Homo sapiens: one gene and its partners. The protein of the gene in region 1 interacts with the protein of each later gene in a pairwise test. Each region holds a gene or a part of one and is shown in the gene's direction. Other genes may lie near its edges. The genes, in order: UBE2W, CADPS2, PJA2, RNF138, MID1, RNF10 and TRIM59.

Evidence for each region.
Region 2: the proteins of UBE2W (region 1) and CADPS2 interact in a two-hybrid assay, tested with the Homo sapiens proteins (one large-scale study listed by BioGRID and IntAct).
Region 3: the proteins of UBE2W (region 1) and PJA2 interact in a two-hybrid assay, tested with the Homo sapiens proteins (one large-scale study listed by BioGRID and IntAct).
Region 4: the proteins of UBE2W (region 1) and RNF138 interact in a two-hybrid assay, tested with the Homo sapiens proteins (one large-scale study listed by BioGRID and IntAct).
Region 5: the proteins of UBE2W (region 1) and MID1 interact in a two-hybrid assay, tested with the Homo sapiens proteins (one large-scale study listed by BioGRID and IntAct).
Region 6: the proteins of UBE2W (region 1) and RNF10 interact in a two-hybrid assay, tested with the Homo sapiens proteins (one large-scale study listed by BioGRID and IntAct).
Region 7: the proteins of UBE2W (region 1) and TRIM59 interact in a two-hybrid assay, tested with the Homo sapiens proteins (one large-scale study listed by BioGRID).

The regions. Positions count from the first base shown.
Region 1 is NC_000008.11:73,819,863-73,823,362, reverse strand, and holds part of UBE2W (ubiquitin-conjugating enzyme E2 W), read left to right. Parts: intron 1-3,500. UniProt on the Homo sapiens protein: Accepts ubiquitin from the E1 complex and catalyzes its covalent attachment to other proteins.
Region 2 is NC_000007.14:122,659,461-122,662,960, reverse strand, and holds part of CADPS2 (calcium-dependent secretion activator 2), read left to right. Parts: intron 1-3,500. UniProt on the Homo sapiens protein: Calcium-binding protein involved in exocytosis of vesicles filled with neurotransmitters and neuropeptides. Probably acts upstream of fusion in the biogenesis or maintenance of mature secretory vesicles.
Region 3 is NC_000005.10:109,399,975-109,403,474, reverse strand, and holds part of PJA2 (E3 ubiquitin-protein ligase Praja-2), read left to right. Parts: intron 1-3,500.
Region 4 is NC_000018.10:32,108,874-32,112,373, forward strand, and holds part of RNF138 (E3 ubiquitin-protein ligase RNF138), read left to right. Parts: intron 1-2,880; coding exon 2,881-3,046; intron 3,047-3,500. UniProt on the Homo sapiens protein: E3 ubiquitin-protein ligase involved in DNA damage response by promoting DNA resection and homologous recombination.
Region 5 is NC_000023.11:10,565,086-10,568,585, reverse strand, and holds part of MID1 (E3 ubiquitin-protein ligase Midline-1), read left to right. Parts: intron 1-982; 5' UTR 983-1,038; coding exon 1,039-1,698; intron 1,699-3,500. UniProt on the Homo sapiens protein: Has E3 ubiquitin ligase activity towards IGBP1, promoting its monoubiquitination, which results in deprotection of the catalytic subunit of protein phosphatase PP2A, and its subsequent degradation by polyubiquitination.
Region 6 is NC_000012.12:120,558,356-120,561,855, forward strand, and holds part of RNF10 (E3 ubiquitin-protein ligase RNF10), read left to right. Parts: intron 1-2,370; coding exon 2,371-2,531; intron 2,532-3,500. UniProt on the Homo sapiens protein: E3 ubiquitin-protein ligase that catalyzes monoubiquitination of 40S ribosomal proteins RPS2/us5 and RPS3/us3 in response to ribosome stalling.
Region 7 is NC_000003.12:160,439,787-160,443,286, reverse strand, and holds part of TRIM59 (tripartite motif-containing protein 59), read left to right. Parts: intron 1-3,500. UniProt on the Homo sapiens protein: E3 ubiquitin ligase involved in different processes such as development and immune response. Serves as a negative regulator for innate immune signaling pathways by suppressing RLR-induced activation of IRF3/7 and NF-kappa-B via interaction with adapter ECSIT.

The DNA.
Region 1 (3,500 bases):
GAAACCAAGTCAAAAATGTGTTCTCTAAACTCTTTCCTTAATATTTAATTCTAAATCAAATATCAAACTTAAACATTATGTTGAATTTCTTCTTTAATATTTCTGTAAGTTACAGCATTTGTAATAAATTCTCCCTATTGTCCTATTTCAAATTCATTTTATCCTCCTTCCCTGATTTTATTTGTCTGTTCTTCTAACATTGGTGTTATCCAGGTTCTTTATTCAGCACTGTGTTACTCTTCTCACTCTTCTTTCACCTTCAGTCACCTTAAGCAGCTAACTCCCAGATCTACAGCTCTGGGAACACTTCTTTTTTTAAGGCTTAATTTCACACCCTTGTTGAAATACTTGAGTACCTCCAGACATCTCAAATTTAACACAACTAAACTTGATCTTTCCAATAACAAAGAACATTTTGTTTTTCTTTATCCTGGGTTACTGTCCACCTGTCTATTTTTGTGCTCAGTTTTTCTCTTTTCCACACTCCTCCCTCCTACATTTGAAAGGTAGCCCATTCTTTTCTTAATGTCAGTGCTGTAGTCTGGTTTTTTGTTTGTTTGTTTTTGTTTTGTTTTTTTTGAGACAGCGTCTCGCTTTGTCACCCAGGTTGGAGTGCAGTGGTGCAATCTTGGCTCACTGCAACTGCTGCCACCTGGGCTCAAGTGATCCTACCATATCAGCCTCCGAAGCAGCTGGGACTACAGGTGCATGCCACCACACCCAGCTAATTTTTTTTTTTTTTTTTTTTTTTTTTTTTTTTGCAGTTGCAAGATTTAATAGAGTGAAAACAGAGCTCCCATACAAAGGGAGGGGACCCAAAGGGGGTTGCTGTTGCCAGCTCGAATGTCTGGGTTTATTTCCTGATCGTTGTCCCTCCCTCTGTGCTCTCAGGCAACAGATGATTGGCTATTTCTTTACCTCCTGTTTTTGCCTAATTAGCATTTTAGTGAGCTCTCTTTACTATCTGATTGGTCAGGTGTGAGCTAAGTTGCAAGCCCTGTGTTTAAAGGTGGAAGCGGTCACCTTCCCAGCTAGGCTTAGGGATTCTTTGTCGGCCTAGGAAATCCAGCTAGTCCTGTCTCTCAGTGCCCCCTCTCAACAGGAAAACCCAAGTGCTGTTGGGGAGGTTGGCCGACAACCACTCTAACTGCTTCCCGCTGAATTGGGACGTAGTAGGGGTTGTGCAGTTGAGATTTCCTCAGGAGGGGTGCCTTCAATGTCATTAACATTGGAGCATGGGCTAGCAGGCCGGTCCAGGGGTCTGTGGTAGATTTTAGTCATGGACTGTCTGGGGCTCCATTTGAAGAACGATTTGTAGTTTTACAGCTTCAATTCTGGAAGAGACAAACTTAACAAGGAGGTTAAAGATAGAGGGATTGAAATGTATGGCCTGCAGTGCAGGGGATTATTTCTTTGGCACACTTTACAGGCCTTGACTATCTGCTTGATAGTTTTGAAAAGGTCTGGTCCAGTAAATAATGATTTGGCCATCTGATGGCACACCCAGCTAATTTTTATATTTTTTGTAGAGATGGGGTCTTGCCATGTTGCCCAGACTAGTCTCGAGCTCCTGGGCTCAAGCGATCAGCCCACCTCCTTGGCCTCCCAAAGTGCTGGGATTACATGTGTGAGCCACCATGCCTGGCCTAGTCCAGGTTTTTATCTTTTATTTGAACCATTACAGTAGCCTTTAGTTCTTTGAATTCCTACATCCTTTCACGGTGCCAATAGATTTGTTTGAAGGCACAGTTATCTCACTGGTTACATACCACACACATGGACATGCACACACATCCCCCCCCCCCCACACACACACTCCCACACCCCACTCCACCCCCCCACCACACACACACTCTGTCTCACTCCACCATCCCCAGAATTCCTCACCCCCTGACAGTAAAACCTCTTAATGTTTATTTCCTATGGAATCAAGTTTTTAGCCTGGCATTCAAGTCCCTGTATAGTCACATCCAAACTTAACTTTTTCTGCACCTGCATGCATTCTGTATGGTAATATTTCTATATAGTACTTCATAATTTAACTTCCATTCTGATTTTGTTTTCTAACATCTTTTAATGAAGTGGTTAGGGGAGGTAGATTCATCCTCATTTTATATGTGAAGAAATTGAAACTTGTAGAAGTGAAGTGCCTTGTTCACGTTTTAATACCTAGTTTATAGGACAGTCAAGACCCAAACCCAAGTCTTTCCTTTCCTCCTTTGCCATACTGCCAATTAGATGCGAGTACCGGTGTGGAAAAAATGCCTATTTATCTATGTAGTAATTTTCTCTCTGAAAGTGAAAGATTATATGTGGAATGAATGGTACCTTTGAAAGCTCTAGGTCAGTTATTCTCACTCTTTTTGAAATATAAGGATTCCTTTTTTAATTTACTTTTTGGTGGGGTGGGGGTGCGGAGACAGAGTCTCCCTTTGTCATCTACCTATGCTGTGGTGTAATCATAGCTCACTGCAGCCTCCAACTCCTGGGCTCAAGTGATCCTTCCACCTCAGCCTCCAGAGTAGCAGGGACTACAGCCATCTGCCGCCATGCCTGGCTTGGTTTTTTTATTTTGTTTTTTTGTTTGTTTGTTTGTTTGTTTGTTTGTTTTTTATTTTTTTGAGACAGAGTCTCGCTCTGTTGCCCAGGCTGGAGTGCAGTGGTGTGATCTCTGCTCACTGCAACCTCTGCCTCCTGGGCTTAAACCATTCTCCCACCTCAGCCTCTCTGAGTAGCTGCAACTACAGGTATGCACCACCATGCCTGGCTTATTTTTTTTTGTATTTTTGGTAGAAACAAGGTTTCACCATGTTGGTCCAGCTGGTCTTGAACTCCTGTCCTAAAGTGATCTGCTCGCCTCGGCCTGTCAAAGTACTGGGATCATAGGCACGCCCAGTGAGGATTCCTTTTTAATATCAGTTAATTCTGTAGTCCCTCACATGGCATAGAGGTTGTATATTCTAATATCCATTGATTGGGAAAATGGCAGAACTACTCTGAGGCCAGTAATACGTTAAAATTTTTTAAAATGTATTTATACATAATCTATATAGTTTTAACATAATTATAATGGGTCAAACATCAATGCTTGATGTGCTTATAGACTTCAAGATTTTTCCAATAACTGAAACTTTGCAGAGATCCACTGCCCTGGGAAAGTGGCTAGAACCAGTCCTCTAGGGCAGTAAAATTCCCCCAAAATTTTATTTGATGAAACTCTGTAGCATTAGCACTTGTTACCTAAATTAGTCTTTCATCTTTCTGGCTGGGCATGGTACTCATGCCTGTAATCCAAGCACTTTGAGAGGCCAAGGCAGCCCAGGAGTTTTGGGACCAGCCTGGGCAACGTAGGGCAACCCCATCTCTAATAAAAAAAAGAAAGAAAAGTCTTTCATCTTTCTATGCAATGAACAGTACTGAGTTTATCACTAGTTACAAGAGTAGAATTTGGAAAATATTTCTAGAATAGATGAATCTCATTGTGAAATTACTGCTTTTGT
Region 2 (3,500 bases), on another chromosome or scaffold:
TGGGCCATGCCATGTAGAGTAAAAGGAAAATCATCTCCTATCTGAAGAAGCTTGGCAAATTATAATAAATAGGTATTTCTCACTGCAAAATAATATTTTATAAAGATATGATGCTGGTCTTCTGAGTTGTATGGAAGTAATTAAATTTCAAATTTTTTTATTTAACTCATCCAGATTGAAATAAATTGAGGATGATAGTTGAACTATGTAATTTAAAGAGATGACAGAGTGAATATTATATTTTCTCTTCAGTTGTTATTCTAGTTATACATACAAAAATGGGATAAAGGCCAGGCATGGTGGCTCACGCCTGTAACCCAATGCTTTGGGAGGCTGAGGCGGGCAGATAGTGAGGTCAGGAGATTGAGACCATCGTGGGCAACATGGTGAAACCTGGTTTCTACTAAAAATAGAAAAATTAGCTGGGCGTGGTGGTGCATGCCTGTAGTCCCAGCTACTCAGGAGGCTGAGGCAGGAGAATTGCTTGAACCTGGGAGGCGGAGGTTGCAGTGAGCTGAGATCGTGCCACTGCACTCCAGCCTGGTGACAAAGTAAGACTCGTCTTAAAAAAAAAAAAAAAAAAAAGCAGGGAAGGAGGTATAAAATCATGTTTCACATTTTTCATTTTTTAGACCCAATGATTTGTCTAATAATGTAGTCCTTCTATATTTGCATTTTGTTTGTTTATGTTGAGGGTATAAATTATTTAACTATGCCCTAATATAAAACTTAAATTGATAAAATTCTGACACTTAAAAATTTTTGTGTTACCTTAAGAGTTACACTTCTATAATATACATGTTTGTTTTTAATCTTTTTGCAAATCTTCTCTGAATTTCTGTGTTATATCCATATTGGTTACTTTGCATTGGTAATTTGTGGATCATTTCAAGTCAACAAATTAATAGAGTTAATAGTAAATCACTGAGGCACTTTAACCCTGTGAACAATTTGTGTACTCACTGTAATTGATTTCATTGTTTTATTAAACCAGGTAGTTATTTGATAATAGTGGAAGAAGACTATAAAACCAAAATCTTCTATTTGAAAGATAACTTCAACTGGAACTTTGTATTTTTAGTGAAACAGTAGCTCACTTGTACAAATAAATGTTGATTAACATAATTTAGTGGGAAAACTCAGATTCAGACATTCAGTAGATATTTGTTGAGCTTTATTCAAGTCCAAAACCTCTGTAGGTATTAGGGAATCCAAGTTGAGCGAAAAAACATATTTTTTCCTCTGTAGTGGCTAAAGTCTATATAAGATAAGACTTGATAAGTCCAAGAAAAGTCATTTATTTGCAGCTTGCCCAGCTTTTTATTCTGAGGATGGGAGTGATGACTTTCAAGCTCTTTATATGTCTCAGTTAAAGCTATAATTCCTTTCAGTTCTGAGATTTGAAAGAAAAGCTTATGGATTATTTTTTATTGATTTTAAAACACAAAGATATTATAAGACCTCTAAATGAGTTATTACATATGGATTAGAATATACTAGATGTTACAAGGTTATAAAATATATTTCCATGTTCCTATGAGTTTATGTTATTAACTTAAAATATGTTTAAGTTGTCTGCCTACTAGAGAATCAGCTGGACTGTGGGCACCCTGGTTTTAGTCTTCTGTGATTTGAAACCTACTTGCAATTCAGATCTCCAACTGTAGCAGTGGCTTTGTCCTTGCTCAGAGTTGGCCTGAACAACAATAAAAAATAGCAGTTTTGTTTATTTGTCCTTTCAGTTCTATCAGTATTTGTCTCATATATTTTGATACTCTATTAGGTACATATATTTGTAGTAGGATTGTTATGTTTTATTGTAGAATTGACTCCTTTATCGTGATGTAGTATTCCTTTTTATCCCTGATTATTTTCCTTTTTCTGAAATCTACATTGTCTTAAGCTAATACAGCCACTCCAGCTTTCTTTTTATTAAGGTTAACATGGTATCTCTTTCTCCATCTGTTTACTTTTAACATAAGTCTTTATTTTTAAAGTGGATGTTTTGTAGACAGTGTGCAATTGGGTCTTGAAGTTTTTCTTTTTTTTCCGAGACGAAGTCTTCCTCTGTTGTCCAGGCTGGAGGGCAGTGGTGTGATCTCAACTTACTGCAACCTCCACCTCCCGGGTTCAGGTGATTCTTCTGCCTCAGCCTCCCAAGTAGCTGGGATTACAGGCACCACACCACCATGCCTGGCTAATTTTTGTATTTTTAGTAGAGATGGGGTTTCACCATGTTGGCAGGGATGGTCTCGATCTCCTGACCTCATGATCCGCCCGCCTCGGCCTCCCAAAGTGCTGGGATTACAGGTGTGAGCCACAGCGCTTGGCCCAAGTTTTCTTTTTTTTTTTTTAAATCCAGACTGATCATCTTGGTCTTTTAATGGGTATGTTTAGGCCATTCATATTTAAGGTGATTACTAATGTAGTTGGATTAAATTTTAAAATCTTTGTAGCTTTTACCACTTGATGCATTTGTTCTTTGCCCTCCCCTAGTTTTTGTGCCTTCTGTAATTTTGATTGAACACTTTATATGAATTCCATTTTGTGTCTTTTGGTGTACTGCTTATACATTTTTTTAAAAAACGAAACAAAATTTTGGTGATTCTCCTAGAGTTTAAAATACATATTTTTAAATAATCTAAGCCTACCATCAGATAACACTATACTATAAGGCTTCATGTGTACTGCAGCTACTCCATAATAGAGTATATCCAATTCCTTCCTCGCATCCCTTGTGGCATTGCTGTCATTCACTTCATTTATAATATGCTATAACCCCCAATATATTCTTTCTATTATTGCTTTGAACAGTTATCTTTTAGCTCAATTAAAAATAAGAAAAATAAAAGATTATATGTATTTTACCTTCATTTATTCCTCCTCTGATGCTCTTTCATTTCTTTATGTAGATTCAAATTTCTTACTGATATTATTTTCCTTATCTCTGAAGAACTTTTATCATGTCTTGTAGGCCAAGACTAGTGGTGATGCAGTCTCTCAGTTTTTGTTTGAGAAAGTCCTTGTTTCTTCTTTGCATTTAAAGTATAATTTCACTGGATATAGAATTATCTGTTAGATTTTTTTTTCTCTTTCAGCGCTCTGAAAATTTCACCACACTGTCTTTTTGTTTGCATGATTTCTGATGAGTTTAATGTAGTTCTTATCCTTTACTCTTTAGAGGTAAGGTGTTATTTTCCCCCTTATGGCTTCCTTCAAGAGTTTTTCCTTCTTTCATTTTTCTGCAATTCGAATATGCTGTGTCTAGGGGTGTGTGTGCTTGTGTGTATTTCTTTTGCTTGGTGTTTTTCTGAGCTTCCTGTATCTGTGGGTCAGTGTCTATTATTAATTTTGGAAAGTTCACTGCTGTTATTACTTCAAATATTCCTTCTGTCCTATCCCCTCTTTATTCTTTTTCTGGTATTCTAGATATGTTTATGTCACCCATGTTTCTGTTACCCATGTTATCCCACAGTCCTGGGATGTCCGTTCTGTTTGTT
Region 3 (3,500 bases), on another chromosome or scaffold:
ATTTATTAGGATTAGTATTATTTGTTTTACAATTTTTTTTAGAGTTTGCATGTGAACTCTTCTGGTCCTAGAGTTTTCTTTGCTGGAAGGCTTCAAAGGATAAGTCCAATTATCCTTTAATAAATACAGGATTATTAGGGTTATCTATTTCTTCTTGAAAGCTTTCGGTCTTTGTATGAATCACTTTCACTCACTAAGTGAGCGTTAGTAGTTTTTGTCTTTCAAGGCATTTGTCTTATTTCATTTATTCGTTGTCATAAAGTTGTTTCTTAATTATTTTAATGCCTATAACGTCTGTAGTGGTGTCTTTCCTTTCATTCTTGTTATTAGCAGTGTGACCTCTCATTTTTATTTGGTTCTAGGTTTATTTTATTAATCTTTTCAGAGTCAACTTTTTATTTGATTGCTTTTTTTTTAATTGTTAGTTTTATTGATTTCTGCTTCTTACTATTTCTTTCTATATGCTTTGGGTTTAAATTCCTCTATGTTAATTTATTAAGGTGTAAGCTTAGGTCATTGACTTGAGACCTTTTTTCTTTTCCTTCCAAGCACTGCCTGAGGTGCTTACACAAATTTGATGCACTGATTTTTTTTAAAGTTCTTATGTCACTTCCACTTTGACCCATGAAGGTTGCTGTTTAATTTCCAAATATTTGGTGATTTTGCATGTCTCTTTCTTTGTATAATTTATTTTAAATTCTTTGATATTTGTTTTATGACCAGAATATGGTTACTCTCAGTAAATGTCCCATGTACACTTCAAAATAATGTGTATTCTGCTGTTTAGCAGTGGAGTATTCTATATCAAGTTGATTGATGATGCTTGTTAGGCCTTCTCTTTCCTTACTGAGTTTTTGTTTGTTTCATTGATCATTGAGAGAAGAGTTGAAGTCTCCAAGTATAATGGTAAGTTTGTTTATTTCTCCTTTTCAGTTTTTGCATCATGTGTATTGAACCTCCTGTTAGGTGCATGTAAATTTAGGATTGTTAAAACTTTTTGGTGAATGAACCCCTTAATCATTATATAATGCCCTCTTTATCTCTGATAGTATTCCTCATTCCAAAGTCTACTTTATCTAATATTAATACAGCCTCTCCAGCCTCCTTTTAGTGTTTGTATATTATTTTCCATCCATTTAATCTGTCTTTTATTTAAAATGGGTTTGTTCTAGACAGCCTTTTTTAATTCATCTTGAAAAATCTGTTTTTACATTGAAGTGTTTAGACTATTTACATTTAATGTAATTTTGATGTAGTTGGATTTAAATATACAATCTTAATTGTTTTCTACTTATGTGCTCTCTGATGCCTATTTTTGAGTGCATTTTATCTTCACCATTGGCTCACTACTTACACTCAACTTTTCCTCTCTTTTAAAAAGTTAATTGGCTTCTCTGTGATTTATATTTTACATCTTTAATAATAGACCATATGGAAGCAATACTATACCACATTTTATATAGTGTCAGAGCTTTACAACAGTATATTTACAATGTATATTTACAATTTCTCCTTATCTTTTGTGCTATTACTGTTTTACCTTTTACAAATGCCATAAATGCATAATACCTTGTAATATTTGTTTTATTCCTGTGCTGTCTAGTATGGTAGTCATTAGCCAGTGTAGCTATTTAAATTTGAATTTAAAGTAGTTAGTACAAGTTAAATTAAAATTGATTTTCTGTGTTATAGTGGCCTCTTTTCCAGTGCTTATTCTTTCTGCATGAAGAACTTCCTTTCACATTTCTTGGACTTCAATTCTACTGGTAACAAAGTTCCAAAGATTGTTTCACAAATACTTTGTTTCACTTTTTCTTTTGAAAGATTTTGCTGGATATAAATTTATTGTTCACAGTGTTTTTCTAATATTAAGGATGCTATTTATTATCTTTTGACTTGCACAGTTTCAAATAAGAATTTGGCTGTGATTCTTATTTAGTTCCTTTTTTCTGCTGTCAGTATCAAATATGTTTTATCAGTGGTTTTTAAATTTTATTTTATTTGTTGTTTTTTTTTGAGACAAGGTCTCGCTCTGTTGCCCAAGTGGAGTGCAGTGGTACAAGCTTGTCTCACTATAGCCTTGAGCTTCTAGACTCAAGCAATTCTCCCACCTTAGCCTCCAAAAATCCTGCATTTGCAGGCCTGAGCCACTGTGCCCAGGCTGTCATTGGTGGTGGTAGCGGTTGTTTTTGAGACAGAGTCTCACTCTGTCGCCCAGGTTGGAGTGCAATGGCGCCATCTCAGCTCACTGCAACCTCTACCTCCCGGGTTCAAGTGATTCTCATGCCTCAGTCTCCCAAGTATCTGCGATCACAGGCTCCCGCCACTACGTCTGGCTAATTTTTGTATTTAACAGGGTTTCACCATGTTGGCCATGCTAGTCTCAAACTCCTGGCCTCAAGTGGTCTGCCCTCCTTGGCCTCCCAAAGTGCTGGGATTACAGGCATGTGTCATTTGGTTTTTTTGTTGTTGTTGTTTTGTTTTTTGTTTTTGAGACAGAGTCTTGCTTTGTCTCCCAGGCTGGAGTGCAGTGGCGCCATCTCGGCTCACTGCAAGCTCTGCCTCCCAGGTTCATGCCAGTCTCCTGCCTCAGCCTCCTGAGTAACTGGGGCTACAGGCACCCGCAACCATGCCTGGCTAATTTTTTTTGTATTTTTTTAGTAGAGACGGGGTTTCACCATGTTAGCCAGGATGGTCTCAATCTCCTGACCTCGTGATCCACCTGCCTCTGCCTCCCAAAGTGCTGGAATTACAGGTGTGAGCCACCATGCCCGGCCATATCATTCGTTTTTTATAGCAGGTTAAAGATGTTAACATCTTGGGATATGTGTACATTTTTGTGTGTTTTGTATTTATACTGCTTTTGTAGGGGGGAATCACTGAGCTTCTTGGGATTTATGATCTTTTAAATAATGTATGAAAAATTCACAGCATCTTTCTCTTCTAATGTTTCCACTGCCCGCGACACCCCCCCGCCCTTCCCCCCCCTCCCCCTGCTGGTTTGCTCTCTTTTTGTGGGGTTCCAGTTAAACTCATGGCAGCTCATTTAATGCAGTCCACAATTCTTGGAGGCTCTGTTTTGGTTTTTGTTGCTGTTGTTTTTTAACATGTTTCTTTTCAGTTAAATCACTTTTTATCTAGGCTTGGATCATTTCTTTTGACTTATCTTTTTCTTTTTTTTTTTTTGAGACAGTCTCAGTCCATCACCCAGACTGGAGTGCAGTGGTGTGATCTTGGCTCACTGCAACCTCTGCCTCCCGACTTCAAGCGATTCTCCGTACCTCAGCCTCCTGAGTAGCTGGAATTATGGGCGTGCACCACCACGTCTCACTAATTTTTTGTATTTTTAGTAGAGACGGGTATCACTATGTTGGTCAGGCTGATCTTGAACTCCTGACCTAAAGTGATCCACCCATCTTGGCCTCCCAAATTGCTGGGATTACAGGTGTGAGCCACTGAGCCTGGCCTGATTTATCTTGAGCTCACTAAAAGCTTCCTCC
Region 4 (3,500 bases), on another chromosome or scaffold:
GTCTCACTATGTTGTCCAGGCTGGCCTCAAGTAATCCTCCCGCCTTGGCCTCCCAAAGTGCTGGGATTATAGGCATAAGCCACTGCCCATGGTTTTATGTATATAGGTTTGATGGGTATATACTTCAGAGTGGAATTTATGCGCTCTAATGGATATTGCCACCCAGTTTTCCAAATGGTTGTAAAAGTTTATACTCCCATAGCCTCCAATGTGAGTTTAGGTTGGTTCATATCCTCCCTAACACTTGGTATTTCCCACCGTTTTCATTTTTGTCTTTTTCTTTCTTTTTTTTTTTTTTTAAACAAGGTCTCACTCTGTTGCTCAGGCTGAAGTGCAGTGGCACGATCTCAGCTCACTGCAACCTCTGCCTCACAGGCTCAAGTGATCCTCTCACCTCAGCCTCCTGAGTAGCTGGGACTACAGGCATGTGCCACCATGCCAGGCTAGTAGAGATGGGGTTTCACCATGTTGCCCAGGCTGGTCTTGTGAGCTTAAGCCATTTGCCCCGCTCAGCCTCTCAAAGTGCAGGATTACAGGTGTGAGCCACTGTGCCTGGCCATTGTTTTATTATTACTATTTTTTTAGAGACAGGGTCATGCTGTGTTACCCAGGCGGGCCTTGAACTCATTGGCTCAAGAGACCCTCCCACCTCAGCCTCCCAAGTGGCTAAGACTACAGGTACATGCTGCTGTGCCCAGATTTGGTTACTTTTACTATTTTTAAAACTAGTTTTGCTGGGCACCATGGCTCACGCCTGTAATCCCAACACTTTGGGAGGCTGAGATGGCTGGATCACTTGAACTCAGGAGTTCAAGACTAGCCTGAGCAACTGGCAAAATCCCATCTCTACAAAAAGTACAAAAATTAGCCGTCGCAGTGGTGCATGCCTGTAGTCCCACCTACTGGGTAGGCTGAGGCAGGAAAATTACTTGAGCCCTGGAGGCAGAGGTTGCAGTGAGCCAAGATCGCACCAGTGTACTCCAGCCTGGGCGACAGAGCGAGGCTCTGTCTCAAAAAAATAAAATAAATAAAACTAGTTTTTAGTTTGGCAAGTGAAAACTGGCATCTTGTTTACTTTGCGTTATTTTGGTTTCTGGCTATGGTAAATATTTTTAATTGTTATTGTTTTTTGAGAGACAGTATTGCTCTGTCACCCAGGCTGGAATGCAGTGGCACCTTCATAGCTCACTACAGCTTCAACCTCCTGGGCTCAAGTGATCCTTCGCCTCAGCCTCCTGAGTAGCTGGGACTGGACGTGCATGCTACTATACCCAGCTAATTTTTTTTATTTTTAATTTTTGTAGAGACAGGGTCTTGCTATGTTGCCCAGGCTGGTCTTCAACTCCTTGCCTCAAGCTGTCCTCCTGCCTTGTCCTCCCAAAGCACTGGGATTATAGGCATGAGCCACTACGCCCTGCCTAATGTTTTAGTTTATGGTGTTAATTGGTAATGACTTCTAGTGCTGCTTTAATGATATTAACTACTATTTATTGAGCACTTTCCTGACCATGACAAATAATGTGTTAAGCATTTTATACTTGTTATCTATTTTAATCCTCTGAACAGCCGAATCAGTTGTAGATACTTTTATTATTTCGTGAGTGAGGAAACTGATATTAGAGGGAAAAACTGACTTGTTTAAAAGTGCTGCATAGTTAGGAAACTCAGGTTATGTGATCTGTTACTGCACCATTTCCTCTCAACTTCTGTTAGTATAGAGGAGGAATATTCATATATATTTATAGGAGATTGGATTAAATGTATATGTATTCTAGATCCCAGATATATATGTCTGTAATTTAACTGGTTCTCTTGAAAGCAAAATGATCAAATAAGGTATTTGGTGGGGCTAGAGAAGATAAAAAGATTTTAGTTTGATTCTAATTAGAAAGTTGGTTATAAATGTTTAATCTTTTTTTTTTTTTGAGACGGAGTCTTGCTCTGTCGCCCAGGCTGGAGTGCAGTGGTGCAATCTCGGCTCACTGCAACCTCTGTCTCCTGGGTTCATGCCATTCTCCTGCCTCAGCCTCCCGGGTAGCTGAAACTACAGGCGCCTGTCACCACGCCCGGCTAATTTTTTATATTTTTAGTAGAGACGAGATTTCACCGTGGTAGCCAGAATGGTCTTGATCTCCTGACCACGTGATCCGCCTGCTTCAGCGTCCCAAAGTGCTGGGATTACAGGCGTGAGCCACCGTGCCCGGCAAAGCCGGAAGTATTCTTAAGTATTTCTCAAATTATGTTCCATTGCATACTGTTTGGGAAATTTCCCTACTTCCGGACCAAATAACCAAATATCTGTTAACACGCAGATAACTTTGGGTAACACCTAACTTTGGGTAAAACCTATTAACTTTATCCTAGAACTTCCCAAACCAATTTGTGTGCTCTTTTGTAGTAGACCTGTTTATGTCTTGTGGAACAACATGTCGATATACATCAGTTTGAGACAAAAGCTTATGTTACTCATCCTTTTATTTTGTAAGGGGAGGAAATGGAGATCCAGTGTGCGTTAATTTGTTGGCCTAAGATTACACAGCTACTAAATGGCAGAGCCAGGATCCGGTTTTTCCTTTGTACCATGCTTCCTCTAGTAATATTATTAATATGTAGCATTAATATTTATTCATCATATATTATGTTAAGAAGTTGTAAAGCAGACTTGAGTGTAATTGTTCAAATATTCCCATCTAGTCCAGTTATCAGTCTTACTCTCTGATAAATACATATACAGTTACTAAACTTCTGAGATTTATGTACATATGAGTAGCCTAACTTATTTAATATGAATACATATTTATAATCACTTGTTTGTATTTAATTATAGAGATGAAGAGAGTAATTTTTTTTGTAATTAATGTGTCACAATGTTTGGTTTAGTTTCTGTAGAAAATGTTTCCTGACTGCAATGAGGGAAAGCGGAGCACATTGTCCCCTATGTCGTGGAAATGTGACTAGAAGAGAGAGAGCATGTCCTGAACGGGCCTTAGACCTTGAAAATATAATGAGGAAGTTTTCTGGTAGCTGCAGATGCTGTGCAAAACAGGTAGAGTAAATGTGACATCTCTCTTCTTTGGAAGCCAAGTTTCTACTCTGAAATTCTTATTTGAATTTTCTTGGTTGGTGTTTTTTTTTTTTTTGAAAAGATGAAAGGTATTTAGACTGGGAATTGGATAGAAAAGGCCAAAAAAAGCTGTGGTCATAGATCTTACTAGATTATAAACTTACTGAGAAATGAGACTGAAAAAAAAATCACTGAATTTCATAATACTTAGCGTGGCATTTTTCTAAAAGTAATTTCTCATTGATTACTTGCTAAAGTAACTAAATTAGCAAGCTGGCATTTAGCTCATTTAAACCCCATTCTGGTACAAATTCACCCCTTAAGTTTTTCTCATGGTAGCATCATTATTGCAGCTTTACACATAGAAATGTTACTAGTTTGGGCACATGGATTTATGTAGTTTAAGGAACTCTCTAGCTCCTCACTTTACTTATGT
Region 5 (3,500 bases), on another chromosome or scaffold:
GTTGCTGGCAACAGTGACAAGCCCGTGGTGGGAGTTTTTTGGCCAAAAGGGTCCCTCAGCAGTTTTGTAAGCCTCCTTAAATTGCTTTCTCAACTGTAATCATTATCATTGTCATAACATAACTTATCACATGAATATGATGACCACTGAAATCCTTGTTCTAATTAACTAAATCATTGCTCTAAATATTAGTCATTGGTACTCAAACTTACTGCAGCCACTGAAAAAGCCCCCAGATATTTTTCTCCACTTCGTTCTGCCTACCCACGTCCCACTGCTGGATTAAACAATAGAATTATTCAGAAACATAATGAACACATGCCAAAAATATTGCCTCTATCACAATCATCTTTGTGAAAGTCAATGTTTTTTCTCAGGAATATATTTTGGAAAATGACATCCCACACTTAAACACGATCATCTCTGCTGAAATCCCCACATTTGATTTCATGTACATTTCATGCCCATTTCTATAGTTACTGCCTTCCTATTGTTCTGAAACCTGGTTTGGTATTGCAGAGTAAAAGTCCTTAAATCTCGTATACATTAATACGTAAGTTTATAAATTCAAATTTATAAAAGACTCTAGTTTATTGATGAATATTTCTACATTTTAATTTTCTGTGCGAGGTTAAACCTGACTCTGACACAATAAGATTATTCTGATTAAATACAAATTATGGAAATTACAGTTTCAATTACATTCTAGTTTTGAATGAAGCCTTTTAAAAAACAAAATTGAAAAAAAAAATTGCACATTTTCAGTTACTGAACTTTGAGAAAATGTTAACTGGTATATGATGGCTCAGGATGCTTTTTCCTCCTTTTTTCCCCAGTGAATAGAAAGAGAATTATTTGGAATGTACACACACTTACCCTTTCATGACCTGTGTTTGGAATTATTCTGAGATGCATTCAAAGCTGACACCCCCCTATGGTTGACCTCCCTGTGCCTAATCAAATCTTACATTCTTGTTTCCAGATAGCTGATCAGCTTCCTTGGGTTTTGCTGATGACACAAGAGAGCTTTGCCTGAAGATGGAAACACTGGAGTCAGAACTGACCTGCCCTATTTGTCTGGAGCTCTTTGAGGACCCTCTTCTACTGCCCTGCGCACACAGCCTCTGCTTCAACTGCGCCCACCGCATCCTAGTATCACACTGTGCCACCAACGAGTCTGTGGAGTCCATCACCGCCTTCCAGTGCCCCACCTGCCGGCATGTCATCACCCTCAGCCAGCGAGGTCTAGACGGGCTCAAGCGCAACGTCACCCTACAGAACATCATCGACAGGTTCCAGAAAGCATCAGTGAGCGGGCCCAACTCTCCCAGCGAGACCCGTCGGGAGCGGGCCTTTGACGCCAACACCATGACCTCCGCCGAGAAGGTCCTCTGCCAGTTTTGTGACCAGGATCCTGCCCAGGACGCTGTGAAGACCTGTGTCACTTGTGAAGTATCCTACTGTGACGAGTGCCTGAAAGCCACTCACCCGAATAAGAAGCCCTTTACAGGCCATCGTCTGATTGAGCCAATTCCGGACTCTCACATCCGGGGGCTGATGTGCTTGGAGCATGAGGATGAGAAGGTGAATATGTACTGTGTGACCGATGACCAGTTAATCTGTGCCTTGTGTAAACTGGTTGGGCGGCACCGCGATCATCAGGTGGCAGCTTTGAGTGAGCGCTATGACAAATTGAAGGTTAGTCCGATCCGCCTTAAGCCAACCCCTTTCTGCCAGAAAATGTCATGGAAATAAAAAGTGTATTCACTGCTAGCTACATGGCAGGTGAAGGTTTTCTCCTCACCTTTGTTATCTGATTAGTTTTAGCATGTTTTTGGCAACCTATAAATGTTACACAATAAGGGTATCTTGTAAAAGTTGACTGCTGCTTGTAATTTTAGCGTTGTCAAGGTGAGGGCAAATTCTAAAAATCTGGATCATTTTCAATCCATGCAGTTTTTCTGGATCATTTTCAATCCTTACAGTTCTTCCAAAGAGAGTGCTGCCTCTCTCTGAGAGAGAGGGAGAGAGAGAGAGAGAGAGAGAGAGAGAGGGAGAGAGAGGGAGAGAGAGGGAGAGAGAGAGAGAATGACAGATAAAATCTGGCTTTGGGCATTTGGGGAACACTTACTTTTCTCACTCATCTGGGAAAACTAATTCACTCTCATTGTACCTGTATCTAGTTACTGCACAAACAAAAGAATAGAGGGAAGAATGTCTGTAGCAAATGTGGGATTTTAGAGGACACGTGACCTTTTATTCCTTGTATAAACGATATCCAGCTTATTGGTGAAATTCAGTGCTCTGACAATCTCAGGTTTCACGAAAGAATTCCTTTTCGTGTAGGCTCTTTATTCAGTAAGGTTACAGTCAAGACTATTTGAACTTCATTTTTTACATGAAATTATTAACCTAACTCCAGCTTGGGGGATAATGATTAATATGACTATATGTGAAATAAAAGGATCACTTTCTAGGCAGGGCGTGGTGGCTCATGCCTGTAATCCCAGCACTTTGGGAGGCCGAGGAGAGTGAATCACTTGAGGTCAGCAGTTCAAAACCATCCTGGCCAACATGGTGGAACCCCATCTCTACTAAAAATAAAAAAATTAGCCGGGTGTGGTGGTGGGTGCCTGTAATCCCAGCTACTCGGGAGGCTGAGGCAGGAGAATCACTTGACCCTGGGGGGTGGATGTTGCAGTGACCCAAGATCGCGCCACTGCGCTCCAGCCTGGGTGAAAGAGCGAGACTCTCTCTCAAAAAAAAAAAAAAAAAAAATCACTCTCTAAGTATGGATAGAAAGCACTAGGGAAGAAATAATAAGCCAAGTCTCCACATGTTTGTTCAATTTCAGGCAACAGTGGGTCTAATTATTGAAAACTCAGCTGAGAGAGTTTGAGTGAGATACTATGTTCATCAGCTAATTTTAGATCACAAGACACCAATTAAAAGAAAGGAAGTATAAATTAAAAGCTCTAAGTAAATATATATTGAAGTCCTTCCTCTCAGGAAAAACACATACCATGTTGTTGAGCAAACAAAATGAATCACATGATCAAAAGAGTGTTATCACTTAGAAAACAGTGTCACCTTTAACAAATGGTTTCTATCACCTCTCCTTAGCGCTAATGGGTGGTTGTGTTTACTGGGACCACATAGTTTATTCTGTGACAGTGGGATTAACGGACCACATCTGGGATTTGGCTTTGCTATTTCTTGACATGTTGAGGGAAGCCGACATGCTGAAGTCAATTCCTGCTTCTCAATGTCACTTGGGCAACAAAAGCATCACCTGGGCAGCATGTTTCACTTCAAGTATCCAAAGAATTACTGGTGCAAATCCATCTTTAAACCATGTAGAGGAAGTCAAGCACAAGGACTCAGGTGACACAGACAACAGAAGACAGCCGCTGACAGGCTTTCCAGAACAGTGCATGGCAGCACAGGAGAAAAGTACCACCAAAGTTAATCATAGCAAAGGCAATGCATGTATGAGCTGT
Region 6 (3,500 bases), on another chromosome or scaffold:
TCATTTGGGTGGTAAATGTGTGTGTGTAATATTTTTTTCCTAGTGATTTTGACTGTTTAAATGTTTAGCAACTTAAAACATTAAAAATGTGTATTAATTAAAAAAAAATCCTCAGATATGGGTGGATTTTTGAACCAGGCTGAAATGATAGATGCTGTAAAAGACTGATAAATTTTATTTTTATTTTATTTATAGATATATAATATAATATGTATATATATATTTTTTTTTGAGACAGAGTCTGGCTCTGTCACCCAGGCTGGAGTGCAGTGGCATGATCTTGGCTCACTGCAACCTCTGCCTCCCGGGTTTGAGCGATTCTCGTGCCTCAGCCTCCCGAGTAGCTGGGACTACAGGCGCCCGCCACCATGCCTGGCTGATTTTTTTTGTATTTTTAGTAGAGACGGGGTTTCACCATGTTGGCAGGCTAGTCTCGAACTCCCGAGCTCAAGTGATCTGCCCGCCTTACCTCCCAAAGTGCTGGGATTACAGGCGTGAGCCACTGTGACCGGCCAAGAAAACCACTTTTAGTGTCCACAGAATTTTCGTTAATGAACATACCATCATGTCATTAACCCTTTATTTGAGATGGAATCTCACTTTGTCGCCTGGGCTGGAGTGCAGTGGCAATAATTACTTTTAATTAATTAAATTCATTAAAATAATTAAAATTAATTTAATTAATTAAATTAACTTTTAATTTTAAATTATTTTTTTTATTTTAAAAAATTAACTGGGCATGCAGGTATAGTTAATTTTTTATTTTTATTTTTAGCAGAGATGAGGTCTTGCTATGTTGATAGGCTGGTCTTGAACTACTCTTTTTTTTTTTTTTTTTTTTTTTGAGACGGAGTCTTGCTGTGTTTCCCAGGCTGGAGTGCAATGGTGTGATCTCGGCTCACTGCAACCTCCACCTCCTCGGTTCAAACGATTTTCCTTCCTCAGCTTCCTGAGTAGCTGGCATTTCAGGCACCTGCCACCACGCCCGGCTAATTTTTGTTTTTTTTGTGTGTGTGTGTTGTGCTTTTTTTGTTTTTGTTTTTGTTTTGAGATGGAGTCTCACTCTGTTGCCAGGCTGGAATGCAGTGGTGCAATCCCGGCTCACTGCAATCTCCGCCTCCCAGGTTCAAGAGATTCTCCTGCCTCAGCGTCCTGAGTAGCTGAGATTACAGGCACGCACCACCACACCTGGCTAGTTTTTGTATTTTTAGTAGAGACGGGGTTTCACCATGTTGGCCAGCATGGTCTCAATCTCTTGATCTTGTGATCCGCCTACCTCAGCCTCCCAAAGTGCTGGGATTACAGGTGTGAGCCACCGTACTCCGCCTGGTGTTATTTTTTTTTAATTTTATTTTTTGAGGCAGAGTTTTGCACTTGTTGCCCAGGCTGGAGTGCAATGGTGCGATCTTGGCTCACTGAAACCTCTGCCTCCTGGGTTCAAGCGATTTTCTTACTCCAGCCTCCCTAGTAGCTGGGATTATAGGCGCCCGTCACCACGCCCAGCTAATTTTTTGTATTTTTAATAGAAACAGGGTATCTCTATGTTGGCCAGGCTGGTTTCGAACTCCTAACTTCAGGTGATCCACCTGCCTCAGCCTCCCAAAGTGCTGAACGTGAGCCACCACACCCAGCTGGCTTGGTCTTAAACTTCTAAACTCAAGCAATCTTCCTGTCTTGGCCTCTCAAAGTACTGGGATTATAGGTGTGAGCCACTGCGCTGGTCCACCATTTCTTTATTCTTTATTGTTGGTTTTACTGGTTGGTTTGAGCTTTTCTTTTTCTGTGTGTGGTTTTTTTTGTTTTTTTTTTTTTTGAGACAGAGTTTCGCTTTTGTTGCCCAAGCTGGAATGCAGTGGCATGATCTTGGCTCACTGCGACCTCTGCCTCCTGGGTTCAAGCGATTCTCCTGCCTCAGCCTCCCAAGTAGCTGGGATTACAGGCATGCCCTACCAGGCCCGACTAACTTTTTTGTATCTTTAGTAGAGACGGGGTTTCACCATGTTGGTCAGGCTGGTCTCGAACTCTTGATCTCAAGTGATCCACCCGCCTTGACCTCCCAAAGTGCTGGGATTACAGGTGTGAGCCATGGTGCCTGGCTGGTTTGAGCTTTTCTGATATTACATACAATGCTGTAACAATAAACGCGTGACTAAAGTTTTGACTACATCTCTGGGTTTCTTAGATTTCTTATATCAAGAGCAGAGCTACAGACCTTATTTTAAGACCATTGTTAAATTATTTTCTAGGAAATCATGCTAAATTACCCCATTTTCACCCCAGAGAAAAGGCTGTATTTGAAAATTCCTATTTAGCTACACCATCGTGAGCTTTGAATGTTGCATTTCTTTGATCTTGCTGGCATTCTTATAGATGAACAGCACAGCCAGTACTCCAAGTTGCTGCTGGCCTCTAAGGAGCAGGTGCTGCACCGGGTAGTTCTGGAGGAGAAAGTAGCACTAGAGCAGCAGCTGGCAGAGGAGAAGCACACTCCCGAGTCCTGCTTTATTGAGGCAGCTATCCAGGAGCTCAAGGTGAGAGGATGCATTGGAGATGCTAAACCTTTTCACTTTCTCGGCGTTCTGTGGTGAAAACCAGAAATGCTAAACCTTTTCACTCTGTCGGGGGTGAGATGATGGACGCTGGGGATTAAGTTAGTTCCATTCCACATTTAAGACAATAAGCAGAGAATGGCTAAAAAAGCCAATTTGTTTTGGGCTTTGTTTGATGACAGTAGAGAAGGTTTAACCTAGGGCTTTTAAAGCTCTTTCTAGAGCTGAAAGGAGCAAGTCAAAATGATTTTATAACTAATTGTGACAGTGGAGTTTTTTAGATTAGCTATGTTCTTAAAGCAAGTTAGAGTTCTTTGTTTTCTGGGAAAATACTTAAGATTCTATTCTAGAGGTGTTTTGAAAGACATTGTGGAGAAAGTATTATGGCCTGCCCAGTATGCCTTAGGAGTACCTGAAACGGCAAGAATTACACAAGAACAGAATTCCCTGGGTCTTTTATCTTCCACAACAGAGATTCTTGAAGCATCACAACCACTGGTTGTTAGGTCCCACTTTGAGATATTGATTGCATAGGTTAAGCTCAGTAGGCTCAGTAATTTGCATATAACAAGTTCTAGGGTGATTCTGATGGCTGCTCATCCCCAGACCACACTCCTGGAACCACTGATCTAGCTTAGAGCAATAGAAGCCCATATTTATTGAGTGATCAGCATTTGATAGGACTTGTGCTATACACATTTATCTCACTTAAGCTTCTAGTGTGGTAGATAGAACTATCCCCTTTCATGGATGAGGAAACTGAATCCTGGGTTGGGTAATTTGCTAGTAAGGGATGCAGCTGGTATTTGAATTCCCTTCTCCCTGACTCCCAAGGGCTCCTTGGGTAGAGTCCTGTGTATTTAACTTTTGCTTTCTTTCTATAATACGTTGCAGCCGTATTTGTTCAAATGCCATTACAGGCATAAGAAAGGCTACATAGAATTAGAGCTG
Region 7 (3,500 bases), on another chromosome or scaffold:
AGATGTTCATCCTAGAAAATATACATAGGTTAATTTTTTGTTCTTTTTCTTCCTTTCAGAAGCCTAGACTGGTTGTGGAAAATTTCTGCTGCATAAAATTTCATATTGGTTTCTGAAAGAACTAGCCTGTAAGCATGGTAGCCACCTGTATCTTTTTTTTTTCTAAAAAAGGCAGGGTCTTGCTCTGTTGCCTAGGCTGGAGTGCAGTGGCACAGTCGTGGCTCACTGCAGCCTCAACTTCTTGGGCTCAAGTGATCCTCCTGCCTCAGCTCCCCGCGTAGCTGGGATTATAGGCGTGTATCACTGTGCCTGACTAATGTTTAATTTTTTGTAGAGAATGGGGGTCTCTTGGTGTTGCCCAGGTTGGTCTTGAACTCCTGGCTTCAAGTGATCTTCCCACCTTGGCCTCCCAAAGTGCTGGAATTACAGGTGTGAACCACTGCACCTGGCCCACCTATATAGTTTACTTCTCAGGCAGCAACCAGAGTCAGAAAGTTCCTGACCTTACAAAGTTATTTTTCAGTTCTAGTTTCTCTTGAATTTGTTGCCTAAAATTAGTTTTTAATCAATAAATCAGTGAGAAAAGGGTAGTCTGAGAATAGATTTTGACTTCTGTGAACTTCAAGTTATCCACAAATTTTTGTCTAAAAAGTATTATTAAAAATTTTACATATGATAGCAGTAACTTTGAGACCAACCACGATTTTTGCTTCCTATTTTTTTTTTTTCCTTTTTTTGAGACAGAGTCTTGCTCTGTTGCCCTGGCTGGAGTGCAGTTGCGCCATTTCATGCCTCAGCTTCCCGAGTAGCTGGGATTATAGGGATTACAGGTGTGCGCCACCATGCCTGGCTAATTTTTGTATTTTTAGTAGATACAGGGTTTCACCATGTTGGCCAGGCTGGTCTCAAACTCCTTGCCTCAAGTGATCCACCTGCTTTGGCCTGCTTCCATTTTATATAAGCTTAGGATATGCTTTACAATGTCATGAATATTCTCATTCTAAAGAAAGTTGAGCTTTTGGGCCCCTAAGTGCATTCTCAGAGTTGTTCCCTAGTTTTCTGCAAGCATAGAATAGGGGTTTGGATAGAAAAGTTAGATTCTGTTTTAGGACTAGTTTTGCTACTTAAACAATTGAATAGCTCCAGTAATATTAAATCTAGATTAAATGTACGTCGACTGCTCAAATTTTATTTCCTACAAAGTGTTATTCTGTTTATTCCTTCAATGTGAATTCTGACATCACTGAAATACTCTGAAAAACACATTTGTTTTTCTTGGGTGGTTTCTGTATGACTTCATAGCTTTCTGTAGGTGTAGGGTAAAGTTGTAAAGTCTTGCCAGCATGCACTCACTTGAATTTATCTGCAGTGAATGTCATCTTCTTTACTGTTGCTCAATTACTTTAATTTGCTGGAATGCTCTACAGTTCAAGCTTAGTCTCTGTGTGACACACTTTGGCTCATTCGGGATCTGAATATTGTCAGTTTGAATGGAGTGCTTTTTTTCTTTTTTCTTTTTTTTTTTTTTTTTTTGAGATGGAGTCTCACTCTGTTGCCCAGGCTGGTGTGCAGTGGTGTGAACTTGGCTCACTGCAAGCTCTGCCTCCCGGGTTGACGCCATTCTCCTGCCTTAGCCTCCCAAGTGGCTGGGACTACAGGCGCCCACCACCACACCTGGCTAATTTTTTTGTATTTTTAGTAGAGACGGGGTTTCACCCTGTTAGGCAGGATGGTCTCAATCACCTGACCTCATGATTCACCCACCTCGGCCTCCCAAAGTGCGGAGATTACAGGCGTGAGCCCCCGCACCTGGCCTGAATGGAGTATTTTCTGATAGATTTTCGTTTTACACCTTTTCCTAAGCAGAGATTTTGCTATTAAAAAAACAAAAAACAAAAAACCCCAAAACAAAAATCTGTATTAACACAGGTCTCTGAAAAGGCATTTGTTCATTGAAGCAGTAACAAGTGAATGCCTGCAGTGTTAAAATTTGTGCCTAAATTGCAGGAATATAACCATTGTTTAGACACAATTCCTGCCCTTATAGGAGGCCTACATTCTAATGTATACAGAAAAGTTACAAAATTCTTAAATAAAATCTTGTTAAAGTGCTATGAAGTAAAAATGCAGTGTTTAATGAGAATAACAGGGGACCTAATCTGGGGAAAAGGCAGGCTCAAGTTGAGCCTTGAAGGAAGAGTTAAGAGTTTGACAGATCGTAAAGATAAGGAGCCAAGTTTGCATTTTATTAAAAATGCAGTTAGTTACTTTTAGTTGCTGTTTTCACAGATTTTTAATCTTAAAAGTTAGTTTTATAGCATGTGATTTGGTAACCTTTATATTTTACGTGAATGGCACTTGGGTGTTTATTTTTTTTGAGACGGAGTTTCGCTCTTGTTGTCCAGATGAGTGCGGTGGTGTAATCTTGGCTCACTGCAACCGCCACCTACTGAGTTCAAGCAATTCTCCTGTCTCAGCCTCCCAAGTAGCTGGGATTACACGCATTTGACACCACACTGGGCTAATTTTGTATTTTTAGTAGAGATGGAGTTTCTCCATGTTGGTCAGGCTGGTCTCAAACTCCCAACCTCAGGTGATCCGCCCGCCTCGGCCTCCCAAAGTGCTGGGATTATATGCGTGAACCACTGCGCCTGGCCATGGCACTTGGGTTTTTAAGTTTTGCCTAAGGTACTTTCAACAGTGGTATAACTTGATTTTTCTCTATCAAGGGGTAAGCTAGTCTTTAGAATTGTGGCTGATGCATTGAGGGTAGGTATAAAGGAAAGCAGTAGGAGGTGGTAGGGTGCAAAATGGTCAGGCTTCTGTTACTGGAAATATCAGTAGTAGCTTGCCAAGAGGTCAAGTTACTTGTGTCAGAGATGGTCTCTGAACTATCGCTACGTTTCTTTTTCTGTCTCAGAGAAATACGGATCGAGAGACTTTCATGAAGGAAAGATGACTAATGGTCTTCTTTTTGTTCTTTACCATTTAGTGCTCTAGTTTTTCACTTAAAAATTAATTCACAGTTACTATAGTCAACTCTTATCTTTCAAACTGATTTTTATTATAAGAATTAATTCAAAATTTTTCTGTCTTCTAAATCTGCAAGTTAAAATTATTGCTTTAGAGAATTATACTATGCTGATCCTGGGGTTTAAGCGTTCTTGTATTCTAATTTGAGAAGCTAAAAAATTTATGGTAGTAACAGTTACTGTGGAGAAATTTGATAGCTTGCTTTAGAAACCATTATTGAGCCAACTGGGACATGTTTCCTCCTTTTGTGTTAAAGAATATACTTTTGCTAAGCCTAACTTGTTGTAATAGAAATAGTCTTGTCTACTCATTATATGTGCTTGGTTTTGATTTTATCATCTTAAATGTTAAAATGTTGCACAAAATAGTTGTAATCACTAAGTAGACTTTAACAGAACACTTTGAATTTTAGTCTTTATTATGTAGTGTATTAGTCTGTTTTCATGCTGCTGATAAAGACATACCTG